Linked DNA regions of Homo sapiens: region 2 is linked to region 1. The links come from fine-mapping of genetic effects on gene expression. Tissue or cell type: lymphoblastoid cells. Region 1 holds a variant in brackets; the other region holds the start of a gene. All regions are shown on one strand. Distances are from middle to middle.

Region 1 (7,694 bases):
ACTTTCTTTTAAGAGTTTTAAAAATAAACTCATTTTTTTTCCCCTAAACTCGCCCCTTTCTCAGTGGGATTTTTCTCTTTTCTTTCTGTTTTTTTTCCCTCCAAGACTAAGTTTTGCTCCTCTTGCCCAGGCTGGAGTGCAGTGGTGTGATCTTGGCTCACTGCAACCTCTGCCTCCTGGGTTCAAGCAATTCTCCTGCCTCAGCCTCCGGAATAGCTGGGATTACAGGCACCCACAACCATGGCTGGCTAATTTTTTGTGTTTTTGGTAGAGACGTGGTTTCACCATGTTGGCCAGGCTGGTCTCGAACTCCTGACCCCAGGTGATCCACCCACCTTGGCCTCCCAAAGTGCTTGGATTACAGGCATGACCCATCGCGCCTGGCGTTTTTGTTTTTTTTTTTTTTTTTTTTTTTTTTAGATGGAGTCTCATTCTGTCACCCAGGGTGGAGTGCAGGGGTGCGATCTTGGCTCACTGCAACCTCCCACCCCTGGGTTCTATTGATTCTCCTGCTTCAGCCTCCCGAGTAGCTGGAATTACAGGTGTGTGCCACCACACCTGGGTAATTTTTGTGTTTTTTGTAGAGTGGGGTTTTGCCATGTTGAGAAGGCTGGTCTCGAACTCCTGACCTCAGGTGATCTGCCCACCTGGGCCTCCCAAAGTGCTGGAATTACAGGCGTGAGCCATTGTGCCTGGCCACCTGCATTCTTCTCTAGCTCGGCTGTTCTACTTGTTCCTACTTGTAATAGACTAAATAATGACGCTCCAAACATGTCTACATCCCAGTCTCCTTGTGAATCTATTTGTGACTATGTTACCTCTCATGATAAAAGCAACTTTACAGATATGATTAAATTAAATATCTTGAGATGTGAGGTTATCCTGGATTATCCAGGTGAGCTCAGTGTAATCCCACAGGTCCTTACAAGAGGGAGGCAGGAGGATCAGAGTCACAGAGAGAGGAGATGGTAACATGGAAGCATGGAAACCAAGGCTAGACGGAGACAGGATGATATGCTGCTGGCTTTGACAACTGGGGAAGAGGCAATGAGGCAGCAATGTAGCGGCCTCTATAGGCTGGGAAAGTCAAGGAAACGGATTCTCCCCTAAAGCCTACAGAAGGAATGCAGTCATACTAACATTTTAATTCTAGCCCTGTGGATTTTTTTTTTTTTTTTTTTTTAAGATGGAGTCTTACTCTGTCACCCAGGCTGGAGTGCAGTGGCACCATCTCGGCTCACTGCAACCTCCGCCTCCTAGGTTCAAGCGATTCTTCTGCCTCAATTTCCTGAGTAGCTGGGACTGCAGGCGTGAGCCACCATGCCTGGCTAATTTTTCTATTTTTGGTAGAGAAGGGATGTCACCATATTGGCCAGGCTGGTCTCGAACTCCTGACCTCGTGATCTGCCTGCCTTGGCCTCCCAAAGTGTTGGGATTACAGGCATGAGCCACCGAGCCCAGCCAGCCCAGTGAAATTGATTTTGGGATTCTGACCTCCAGAACTGTGAAGATAATAAATTTCTGTTGTTTTATGCAAATAGACTGTAATTTGTTATATCAGCAATATAAAACTAATAAAACACTGTAGTCTAAGACATCACCACCATCTCTGACCCGTATTATTACAATAGATTCCCAACTGGCTTCTCTCTCTCTCTTTTTTTCTTGAGACAGAGTCTTGCTCCGTCACCCTGGCTCACTGCAGCCTTGACCTCTTGGGCACAAGCAATCCTCCTGCCTCAGCCTCCCAAGTAGCTGGGACTACAGGTACACACCACCATACCTGGCTAATTTTTAAATTTTTTTTGTAGAGATGGGAATCTCACCATGTCGCCCAAACTGGTTTCAAACTCCTGGGCTCAAGTGATCCTCTTGCCCTGGCCTCCAAAAGTGCTGGGATTATGGGCATGAGACACCATGCCTGGCAGACCCTCTTAGATTTTCAACTATACAATACAGTATTGTTAATTGAAGGCAAAATGTTGTACAGCCGATTTCTAGAGTTTTTTCATCTTGCAGAACTGACATTTTAGACCTATTGATCAGCAACTCCCTCCAGCCCCTGGCAACAATCGTTCTACTCTCTGCTTCTGGGAGTCTGACTATGTTAGAAACCTCATATAAGTGGAATCATGCAGTATTTGGTCTTCTGTAACTGGCCTGCTTCACTTAGCATAATATCCTCAAGGTTCATCCACGTTATTGCATATTGCAGGATTTCTTTCTTACTTAGTTTTTTTTTTTTTTCTTTTTTGCAACGGAGTTTCGCTCTTGTTGAGAGCGAAACTTGTTGCCCAGGCTGGAGTGCAATGGCGTGTTCGTATTCTTTTTGGAGAGACCAAGGAAAAACTTTATCCAGTTTTGCAGGAGGTTGTTCTCTGACTTGCTAGCGGGGAGAGATGAGTGGGATTGTGGATAAAGAATTGAGCCTAGGCCGAGTGTGGTGGCTCACGCCTGTAATCCCAGCACTTTGGAAGGCCAAGGTGGGCAGATCACCTGAGATCGGGAGTTCAAGGCCAGCCTGTCCAACATGGAGAAACCCCGTCTCTACTAAAAATACAAAATTAGCCAGACGTGGTGGTGCATGCCTGTAATCCCAGCTACTCGGGAGGCTGAGGCAGGAGAATTGCTTGAACCTGGGGGGCACAGGTTGCGGTGAGCCGAGATCGCACTATTGCAATCCCGACTGATCAAGGAGAGCGAAATTCCGTCTCTGGGCAACATAGGGAGACGGCCTCCTTCACCCACCACCTGCCCCCATCTCCACAAAATGGAAAACAAACAAACAAACAAACAAAAATTGAACCAAGCAGGGGTGCGGTGGCTCATGCCTGTAATCCCAGCACTTCGGGAGGCCAAGGCGGGCAGATCATGAAGTCAGAAGTTCGAGACCAGCCTAGCCAACATGGTGGAACACTCATCTCTACTAAAAATACAAAAATTAGCTGGGCGCGGTGGCGGGCGCCTGTAATCCCAGCTACTCGGGAGGCTGAGGCAGGAGAATCGCTTGAATCCGGGAGGCCGAGATTGCGCCACTGCACTCACTCCAGCCTGGGTTACAGAGGAAGACTCCGTCTGGAGAAAAAAAAAAAAAAAGAACTGAACCTAGACAAAGCAGATTGGCACCTAAATTCACACGCTTTTCAAACTGCCACCACGTCTTGGCCTAGCCTTTTTTTTTTTTTTAGATGGAGTCTCGCTGTGTCGCCCAGGCTGGAGTACAGTGGCATGATCTCGGCTCACTGCAACCCCCGCCTCCTGGGTTCTGGGTTGCAGCAATTCTCCTGTCTTAGCCTCCTGAGTAGCTGGGACTACAGGCTCCCGCCACCGCTACCGGCTAATTTTTTGTATTTTTAGTAGAGACGGAGGTGGGGGGGGGGGGGGTGGGTTTCACCATCTTGGTCAGTCTGGTCTCGAACTCCTGACCTCGTGATCCGCCCGACGCGGCCTCCCAAAGTGCTGGGGATTACAGGCGTGAGCCACTGTGCCCGGCCTATCTTGGCCTAGTCTTTTAATTTCTCCTTCCTCATTGGTAATTTCAGTATAATCTAGCAAAGAGACACTAATTTTGAACGAATGGTGAAAGTATGAAAATTTTGGGATCAATCGATGTAAAAACAATTTACCAGAGAGCCACCGCCAGAGGGGGTATAGCTCAGTGGTAGAGCATTTGACTGCAGATCAAGAGGTCCCCGGTTCAAATCCGGGTGCCCCCTCGGGTTTCTTTAAGTTTTTTTCACAGCCATCCAGGAATAACCTGAGTCAGCGAGTTCTGAATGCAAAACTCACGGGAGGTGTCGTTTGTATCTTCCACCTACCTAATTTTCACCTTGAAAGGATTCCCGTACCCTAGAGGGAGAGAACAGCAACCAGAGGCTGCCTTTAGGTGGATCTGAGCCCTCATACCCCAAGTGGCGATAAGCGCACCAGTACTCTCAGTTGGAGAACAAAGGCGCGTATCGATTTCCATCTCCGATGCCCATTGGTTTAACGTTAATTATAATTTGTTTTGGGGTAAAAAATATGTCTTGGACGGGGCAGTAGTTCGTACTTGACTATGAAAAC[T/C]AGGAGAAGTAATCCAAATTCAGAGGTTTTCATATACTCGCGAACTCGAACAGGACAGGGCACACAGATAGAAGGTAGACAGCGAGCAATTTTCCCCTCTTCCTTCTTGACTCAGCTCATAGGCAGGGCTTTGGCTTGATAAGCTATACATGGAAAGTTCAAGGCCTAAAGGAGAGGTAAAACTGGTTCCTCCTGGGTTTTGCACGGAACCGCAGCTCTGCTGATCTGTGATCTCTCTGTTCAGCCTAGAGATACAGCTCACAGTAATAGGAGCCAGGAGAAAAAAATGCGCGTTTCCCCGGGGTCCGAGGAATGACACAACCACATTCCGGGTTTAAAATATCGCAGCTGCCCTTTGACCCAGGCAGCACGCCTCTTCCTTTCTCCTTTATTTTTCCTTTTTTTGGGCAAAACCTAGTCGAGGGGGACGCCCTTGTCTCCCGTCACACTTACCATTTTCCTCCGGCCCAACAGTGACCCTGTCAGGCACGCAGCCAGCAGATACTTGTCCCCATCTTTAGGTTATGAAACTCCATGGCCTTTTATTCTTACTTCAGTGGTTCTTAAAATGTGGTCCCCACACCAGCAGCACCAGAGGCACCTGGAAACTTGGTAGAAATGCAAATTCTCGGGGCCCCCTTACAGAATCAGAAACTAGCAGTGTTTTAACAAGCCCTGCAGGTAATTCTGATGCACGTTCAAATTTGAGAAACACTGTGTTCGTTTATCTCAGTTTGCACTGGGTTATAACTTTACTTTTGTACATTAATAGTCAAGGATGAACACAGCACGTCCATGTCACCATTAATACAGAAAGTTGAAGTTGGAGAAGGGCTGTGTCTATGGGTTTCCCTCGCCTGACCCACCCTCCACCCCCAAAAGGAACGCCAAGTTGAGGCGTTCCCCTGTCTCCCTACCCCCATTGGAAACATCCTGTCCCTCAAACCCGGCACCTCGAACTGTCTGACCCATCTGAGGCTGGCGCCCGTGGCCGCAGAAATCCCTACACCTCTGGCGCGAGTAATGCGGTCGCGCAGCTTTTATACCCACCCCCTCCTCCCGCTGAGCACAAAGTAAAACCGAAAGATTTCTGCTAAGGTTGAAAAATGAGGAAGATACTTTTTCTTTTCTTTTTTTTTTTTTTTTTAGTCAGGACCCAATGTTAAAATGTGAGTCAAGAATGAAAAACAGATGGTTAACAAGGGGAAGGAAAAACCAAGCCATTGAGGGGGCACCCGGATTTGAACCAGGGACCTCTTGATCTGCAGTCAAATGCTCTACCACTGAGCTATACCCCCGCGCCTCTACAGCGCCTGGAGGCGGCTCCTTGGGTGCTAAGCATTGTTGCAGCTGCTACACTGTGAGTAGTGGTGTAACAGAAGGAGAAAGGAATGCTGGAGAAAAAGGGGTCAAGCTGAACGCAGACGGTGCCCGCATCCGGGGAACCCCGGGAAGGTGCACTGCAGGGGCTCGAGAGGGAAGCACTAGCCCGGGCCCGGCAGCGCGCAGGGTCCAAGAGGGAGGGACGGGTTCCGCCCCACAAATGTGGGAAAGGGTGTGGGCCGGAAGAGAGCTAAGAGGGGCAGGGTAGGGGGTCCCCGTTCGGTCCGCAGATTCATGCCGGGTAGAAAGTCCCCGAATGCGGTGAATCAGTTCCAGCGTTCAGGAGGATCCAACCCCACCCTCGACGGGCTTGAGGGGTTAGCCCGCCTCCCGCAGCCCGGGCGCCCCAGATGTGCAGCCTGCTCGCCTCTGCGCCGCCTCCGGCTGGGGAAGGGCCCTGGGCACCGGGCGCAGTCAGCCTGAGAGCGCTGAGGCGCCAGCACCGCGGGCCCCGCCGTCCCCCCAGGAACCCGCCCCCGCGCAGCCCCACGTCGCCCGGAGAGCGCGCCTCGCTGCGCGTGCCCTTGCCCGCGCCCGAGGCGCGTGCCCGCCCCAGTGCAGCCCCTCCTCCCCGCTGTGTTTATTAGGGGAAGGAGGGCGGAGGCGGAGGCCAGTTCCCCAGCTCCAGCCGCCGTCGCTGCTGCCTGTGTAGTTGCAGCCGCGGCCGCCTCCCGCCAGCTCGCCTCGGGGAACAGGACGCGCGTGAGCTCAGGCGTCCCCGCCCCAGCTTTTCTCGGAACCATGAACCCCAACTGCGCCCGGTGCGGCAAGATCGTGTATCCCACGGAGAAGGTGAACTGTCTGGATAAGGTGAGCCCGGGACCGGGAGACGCGTCTTTGCAATCCCCCGCAGTGCTCCGAATCCAGGGAGGAGAGAAGGGCCGGGTCTTTGCCGCCTTATCCCCGCGATCCCAGGAGAATGGAGGGAGGGCGAGCGGGCGGTGTCATGGGGTGTGGGGACACATCCCAGTCTGAAAACCAGGAGATCTGGGGCGAGGCGGGAAGTCCACGCGTAGCGGGCAGCCGCTGCTGGAGAGGGGTGGGCTCTGTGTCCCGGGGTTGGGAGGACGGGAGAGGAGCAGGGAAGTCAGGCGCCGGGGTGTGTTGGGGGAAGGTTAGGGGTGCAGTCCCGCCCCCTACGGCCTGGAGAGTGAGAAGAGACGGCCGCTCCCTCTCCGCTCTGCGCCGAGCGCCAAGTAGGCGGAAGCGCGGGGCGCTGGTGGAGGGGGCGGGGGGGCGGGGCAGAGGCTGGGGGGCCCTGCAAAACCGTCCGCTCCGGCGGGGGTGGCCTGGCTTCCTGGCCTGGCGGGGCGGGGGCTATCAGCCTGCGAGTGTGTGGCATCTGATGCGGGGGGTTTTGGGTAAGGACCCGGGCTCTGCCGCAAGAGCCCCGTTTTTGAACGACCTGCACCCCCTTGGATTCAGTCGTTAAAGGACTCGCAGACCTCCTCCACAGCTTCCCAACCCCCACCTCCAATTAAAAGCCAACTCCCGGTGCTGGGCCGTCCAGCCTGAGCCGGGTGGGGTTGGGTGGCAGAGTAGGGTGGGTGGAGGGTGCTTAGCTGAGATCTCCTGAAATTGTGCTCAGAGCCAGGAGACCGTGTGGAAGAACAAAGAGCTAACTTTTCAAAGCAGGTTTCTCCAATGGAGGGTGGGGTTGGCTGAGTTCTGGGGAAGCCGAGGAAAGGGGGAGGTATTGGGGGGAGGGGAGGGTGGCCTTGTGGAGATTCAGTGTCCCCTGGGGGCCCTGTCTCCCCAATGCTGGACTTGTTCATCTGGTTGCCATTAGACTTTTGGAGGGGGGTTGGAGAGTAGAACTGGGTGTTTCCCGTACAGTTTAGGGTAGGATCCTGTTCTCTTGTAAGCTCCGTAAGATCCTAAGGTAAAACCTGCCCCTCTGCATCCCCTCCCCAGTCTGGAGGGGAGGCCTCTGTGATTTTGTGCCCTTCCTCACCGCGTCTTTCATCCACCACCCAAAGCTGGCTCCAAGTCCAAGTATTCTGTCCTTTCCATCTGAACTGGGAGGGCTGGGAGGACTGGATGGAAGAGAGGTGCAAGGGTGGGAACACTAGATGAAAGAGGGGTATAGAGCCCTGGGGCCAAGTTCATTACTGACCTGGAGCCAGGTTTTGTTCAGGAGAGGATAGTTTATTGGACACCTTATCTCTCCCCTCCCCCTTGGTGTGTGAGCTTCCTCAGTGACCTTTGGCCTCTGAGTCAGCGTGAGGAGGTGGGGTTGGAGGTTC
Region 2 (6,206 bases), 120 kb before region 1:
CTCCCTCACTAGAATGTCTCCAGGTCTTGGGAAAAGTCACTCAAGGTCACATCCAGATGTCTAGAACTGCAGAGGTGAAAGGGCTTTTAGAAAGCACCTTGTTCAGCTGGGCGTGGTGGCTCACACCTGTAATCCCAACACTTTGGGAGGCCAAGGCGGATGGATCATGAGGTCAGGAGTTCAAAACCAGGCTGGCAAAGATGGTGAAACCCCATCTCTACTAAAAATACATGGTGGCTCACGTCCGTAATCCCAGCACTTCGGGAGGCCAAGACGGGCGGATCATGAGGTCAGGAGATCGAGACCATCCTGGCTAACATGGTGAAACCCCGTCTCTACTAAAAATACAAAACATTAGTTGGGTGTGGTGGCACGCGCCTCTAGTCCCAGCTACTCGGGAGGCTGAGGCAGGAGAATCGCTTGAATCCAGGAGGCAGAGGTTGCAGTGAGCCGAGATTGCGCCACTGCACTCCAGCCTGGGCAACAGAGCGAGACTCTGTCTCAAACAAACAAACAAAAATACAAAAATTAGCGGAGCATGGTGGCAGGCGCCTGTAATCCCAGCTACTCAGGAGGCTGAGCCAGAGAATTGCTTGAACCTGGGAGGCAGAGGTTGCAGTGAGTGGAGATCGTGCCACTGCACTCCAAGCTGGGCCACAGAGTGAAAGAAACTCCATCTCAAAAAAAGAGAAAAAGAAAAAGAAGCACCTGTTCAATCCTTTCATTTTACAGATGAGCACACTCAGATGTGACTTGTCTAAGGTCACAAAGCAAAGCAGTGGCAGTCCTGTGACAAGAAAGTGCCTGACTCCCACCCCAGTGCTTTTAACATCCTGGCACCTGGCCAGGCTCCTCACTCATCTAAAGCAGTAATGCCCGGCTTCATCCCAGCAGGTGGGAGGGGAAAAGAGCAGCTCCCTGGAGTGGCGGGAAAACCACTCAGTGGGCCGCCGTCTGGGAGGGAGTCAGTCTGGCCCAAACATGACCATCAGCATGGACTCCTGCCTTGAGGCAGGAAGAGGAGGCACATGTTAATTGCCTTACCCCACTTCCTACACATAGGGAAACAGAGGCTGCAGGGAAGCACAGCCAGCCAGAGTACAGCATCAAGACTCAGACCAGGGGTTTTATGACTCTGTTCCTCTCCCAGCTTCGTGGGTCCAACTGCGCAAGCCCCTTGTATTTGTGTTTGGGGCCGTGAGGGTCTGCCTAGGGACACTGTGAACCTCCCAACTTTCCCCAATCCTTGACAATGGCACAAAGATCTGCTCCCCTGTCCCCACCATGCATTGAAAAGGGCCTCCTGAAGCTGGGCTTACTCAACCCTCCCTTCCTCCCTCTCCCACCTCTCAACTCCCTAAGATCAAACAAAGGCAAAACCCCAAAATATACACATTGCCAGATACACACACATACAGCAAGACACACCCCCCTCCACCTCTCACACTCACTACACACAAGGCCAGATAGACACGCCACAACCCTCCCCCACCCTGCGCCACACACACACACAATCACAGCCAGACCAGAGCCAGGCCCACCCTCGCTACATGCAGAAGCCATCCACATCCACCCCCCACCTAGAAGCACACAGCCTGACATCCCTGCCTGGAAACAGACCCTGCAAACACACACTAACCTTTTGTACGACCCTGGTCCACCCAGGGTAAATTATAACATAAGTCTTCCAGCAACAAAAGCAGTTCAGCTTCCAAAGTCCGCTCTGGGGACCAGAGGCTGGAGGGCTGCAGTGGGCATGTGACCTGCACAAAGCTGTACCCTCTTCCTGTTCGGGCTCTCTCCATTCCCATGACAACAGCTCCATCAACCAAGATCTCTCAGGCAAGGCCAGGGGCAGCAGAGTCCCCCTTCCTGCCCAACCCCCAAGACTTCAACTTGAACCCTACCTAGCTACACATGGTCTGGATCCTGGGGTTGGTTTCCTGCTTCATTCCAAAGTCAGTTCTAAAGCCTCAATCCCCCAACCCCCAACCAGGGGAGCCCGTGGGAAAACCTTCCCACCAAAAAGCTGCAACAGAGCTGGCTTTATGCTCCCAGTAATAACACCTTGGACCAGAGTGAAGGGGGGAGGGAGGAGAGAAATTAAAGAGTTTCAGGAACAGAAACTGCCAGAGGTCCCAGAGGAGGAGGCATCAGAACAGAGCGGGGAGGGGACAACCAGGAGACAGCCCTCCCCTCGAGACAGACCTCTGGGGAGACTGAGGCAGCATGGGGGACACTGAGGGACAAAGATCTCGGGAAGCGCTGGGTAACACTTCCACAATATTCACTGGCAAATCCACCCGCCTCCATGCCGCCTCCTCCCACCTCAAGCCAACCGGAGCGATTATGGGCAGACAGGGGCAGTGGGGGAGGGCGAGGGGCAGCCCGGGCCCACCGTGGAGACAGGCAGGGGGTGTCTGCTTGCCCGGGGGTCCCACGCCCTCAGAGCTAGCAGTAGGAGGGCGTGCGCAGGGTGGGGTGGCTGGGCGTCCCAGGGGAAGGGGGGCCAGTTTAGCAGATCCCCCTGCTTCCGCTGGCGATGGGAAATATTGCGATAAATTTCCCTCCATCCCCATTCTACCCCCAGCGCCCGGGCTTCCCCAGGAGCCCATGTCCAAGGATCAGGGACCCCAGTTACCGGGTGGCCGCTCCCACCTTCCCTAGAGCCAAACTTTCTGCGGGGCCCCGGGAGGGGTGTTCCGGAGGGAGGCTCTGCTGAGGTGGTTCGGGGAGGGGGCGGGGCGCCGGCGCCGGGACGGGGAGCGGGGACCGGCGGGGGGAGGTGCCCGAGAGGACCCGGACCCCGGCGGGGAAGGGCGCCCTCCCCCGGCCTCGCGGCCGCCCCAAAGCACATCCCCTTCTGCCGGCCCCAAGTCCCCGCGCGTCCACGGCGCCCCTGTGCCCACGGGAGAGCGACCCCCGCCCAGATGGAAAAGGGGGTAGACCGGGCAGAGCGAGAGGCGGCTTTGGCTCGTGGGGAGCGGCGACCCAACCCAGCGCGCATCCCGCAAGCCCTCCCGGCTGCCCCGGACCTTCCCCCTCGCTACCTCGGAACAGGGTCTGCCCGGGGGCTGCTGCACAAAGAGGTGGTGGTCGAGGGAGACGCCAAATCGTTAAGACGGGGAGCCCGTTTCGGCCATCTTGGAAGAGAGGAAAGGGAAAAAGGGACAGAAAAAAGGGAGAAAGAAAGGCGGACGGGGCAAGCTGGGCTAGGGACTGACGGGGCGCGGGGGGTGCGAAGGCAGGATCGGCTCAGAGCCTCCCCCTCCCATCGGGGCTTGCGAAGAACGGCCGGCCCCCATCCCAATCCCCAGAGGGTTACAGGCCAGGAGAGGGAAAGGCAGGGGGAGTCCGCTCCGCTTACCTGGGTTCGGGGTCCGGTGGGTCTCGGGGAGGGGGGGATGGGAGGGAGGGAGGGAAGGGAGGGGAGGGGGGCCGCAGCCGTGTCGCTCGCCCGGGCGGCGGGAGGGGAGAAACCTACGGTAAGAAAGGAGTTTGTGAAAGCGGCTTGGGGTGGGAGGGAGAGGGGAGGGGAGGGGACCGAGGGGGGAGGGGAGGGACCGGAGTGTGGGGGGGAGACAAAATGGCTTTTTTCCTCCAGACAAGAGTAGGTCCCGCCCACCACTCACCCACGTGACCTCATTCCTTCAGGATGCTGGCAGAGACGGGAAGAGGAGGGGGAGGCTGGCGCGGCCGCTCCCCGCCACCGGCTGCCGGGTCCCTAGCCAGGACGAGACCCCTCCCTTCCCATGCGGCCGCCCCGACCCCGGAGGATGGATTCTCTTATGTTACCTTCCGCAGTTAGCCCCCCTCCCTTCAAAATATGGGTTCCCCCCACTGACACTGTGATGCCCATCCCTAACTGGGGCGCCTGGAAAATGGTGAAATGGGGACTGGGCTGAAAGGTGGCTCGTGGTCCTCCACGCCCCGGCCTAGACCAAAGGGCGCGGGGCTCCGGCGGGGGACGCGACGCCTTCAGCCAGGCGTCCGAGCGATTTTCATTCACTCCAAGTGACACTCCCTTAAAATTAATAACTGCATCTGGGAGGGCGAGCGTGTCCTCCCCACTCCCCTTGCCCCCTCGGCGGCAGGGGCGCTGGCCCCGAAAAGCGGCGCACCAGGATCCAGCCTGGGCGCCTGGCAGGGAGCAATCGCGAGAGGGGAGTGGAGGTGCGGGGTGAGGCCGGGTGGGGGGCCTCGCCGCGGGGGGATCGGGTAGCTCTGGCGGAGGCTGCGCCCCCGGCGTGCTCGGGCAGAGAAGAACGGAGGCCCGCTGAGGATGGGAACTCAGGCTCCGGGTCTGGGACACAATAATCCGGCCGAAGGCGAGCGGCCACACTGGACTAGGAAACGAGGCGCCGGGCTGTAAGGTGGGCCCGCGCCTTTTCTCCTGCCTGGCGCTGATTCCCGCATTTTTCGCTCGCGCCCTGCGCTGCGCGCTGCCTGTGCGCCTCCCTGGGCGCGCGGGCGGGAGAGTCGGGCGAGCGCCAAGACGGCTGGGCCCGACTCCCACTGGCGCCCCGGCTCCACCTGGCGCTGGGGCTCCGGTCCGCAGTGGCTCCGGCAGGAGGGAGAGAACGAGGAGGGAGGCTTGGAAACGCCGGGAGTAGCGGTGAGGCCGACGCCGGGGAAGCGAATCGATACTGCGTTACTGGACGCCCGTGGGCCTCATGAGGATGGTCGATTCCCTCATTCGTTATTCACGATTTATTAGGGATGGCGGCCGCGTCTGTCCCTCCAGAGAGCTCGATTATCCATCCGGCCAGCAGCGCCATTAAGCGCACTGACGGTGGGAGGCTCGAGTTAGAAATTAGGATAGGAATCTTCGCCCAGTTTTGGAGCGCCTGCCTCCTCTTCCCTCGTTGCTCGCAGCCAAGGCAGCCGCGAAGCTGGGGGCCTCGGGTGAATGCTTTCGCCCTCTGGCCGGCGACCAGGAGACCTGCGCACACTGGCCGCCGAGTGACCCCAGCTCGAGCCTGCAGCCACACCAGCGGGACGGGGGCGGGGAGGAAGAGGAAGGGCGGAGAGACTTCCTTCCAGAGGGAGTGGTCCGAGAACCGGCGGGAGAAGGGCCAAGGGAAGATCCGGTCACCTGCTCCGGAGCCTGCAGGCGGAGAGGCGAGTAGTTCACCGGCCCCGGAGGAAAGGGGACCCTCCCACTGTTCCCAGGCAAATGTGTCGCCGGCATCCTGCACTCTGCCGGGGAAGACGCGCATCCACTCGCTCTGCAGGGAGGGGAACGCGGGAAGGACTCCCAGTCAGCCGCCCCTCTCTGGCTACAAGACCCCGAACAAGAGAAACCTGTAACAGGGGCTCTGCGGAGATCTGGATCCCACCCACCAACCACATGGGCACCTGGGGGGCTGCCCCTCGGGGCATTATCAGCCAGTGGGAAGGGGGTTGACGTTCCTCTGCGGCCCATGAATCCTGGAGGGCTGCCCGAGGGGCCACCGGGGTCCATCCACTTATTCTTCGGTTGTTAAGCGCCAGACAGGAGAGAACCGCTAGAGAGGAGTGTGCTAAGACCCTATTACCCACTAAAACTCCATTTTCATCTTTTGCGTCCTGGATGACTAGTCTCCACATTCCTGGCCTTTCTGGTTTCTCAGGAGAACCTTCTGACCCAACTCTTCCCACATCGAAAGAGTTTCCTAGTCTTTTGTTCTACTACTAGCCGACATAGAAAGCACCTGTCATGTGCCAGTGTCAAATACTGCGCTAGGAACTGGGAACTCAAGGCACAGGAGCCTGGCTTTTGCGCAGGGCGCTCACAGGCCGGTGGGTGCAAACCCTGAAGGACACACAGCCTGTCCCTTTAGCGCCCATCGCTTCTGGTGTGAGCTCCCGCTAAGGGTGGGTGAGTACTGGGGTGGGCTTCCAGAAGAGGCCTCCTTTGAGCCGAATCTGCAGAGACCAAGTGTCTATGAGAACTGCTCAAGAGTGCTTTGCACATTCTCCTCCACAAAGGTCGAGGCTCCCACTGCGCCCAGGAATGCGCCTCGTCAGACATTAGGCGCCCCTTGATTTTGTGTTTGCATCTCACGCGGTCCTCTAGCTGACAAGTGCATCAGAAGAGTCACAGTGGCTGTCACAAGCCAGAGACTCGCAGAGGACAGGAACGCGGGAAATCTAGGCAATTACCTCCAGCATATACCAAGAGCTATTGCGAGGATCAGATCCCTTTAAAAATGGTGACGAGACAG

What was found. PIP is the estimated chance that this variant, and not a neighbour inherited with it, causes the effect.
Region 2: it holds the start of PCGF2, and the variant in region 1 is fine-mapped to the expression of PCGF2 in lymphoblastoid cells (TwinsUK, PIP 0.95).

The regions. Positions count from the first base shown.
Region 1 is chr17:38,864,001-38,871,694 of GRCh38, forward strand. It overlaps LASP1 (LIM and SH3 protein 1), which reads left to right and starts at 6,058. Exons shown (of 7, transcript NM_006148.4): 1 at 6,058-6,258. The coding sequence starts at 6,190. TRC-GCA2-2 (tRNA-Cys (anticodon GCA) 2-2) reads left to right here and starts at 3,645; the gene lies at 3,645-3,716. TRC-GCA4-1 (tRNA-Cys (anticodon GCA) 4-1) reads right to left here and starts at 5,363; the gene lies at 5,292-5,363. RefSeq lists a cis regulatory region at 3,437-4,050, enhancers at 3,709-4,311, 4,312-4,912, 4,488-4,667, 6,158-6,307, 7,320-7,694 and silencers at 4,268-4,367, 5,788-6,097, 6,618-6,717. The variant T/C (reference allele first, on the strand shown) is at 4,066.
Region 2 is chr17:38,744,829-38,751,034 of GRCh38, forward strand. PCGF2 (polycomb group ring finger 2) reads right to left here and starts at 3,508. Exons shown (of 11, transcript NM_007144.3): 1 at 3,368-3,508; 2 at 3,051-3,143. It overlaps LOC100287808 (a long non-coding RNA gene), which reads left to right and starts at 4,206. Exons shown (of 1, transcript NR_149004.1): 1 at 4,206-6,206. RefSeq lists enhancers at 547-1,312, 1,313-2,077, 3,106-3,641.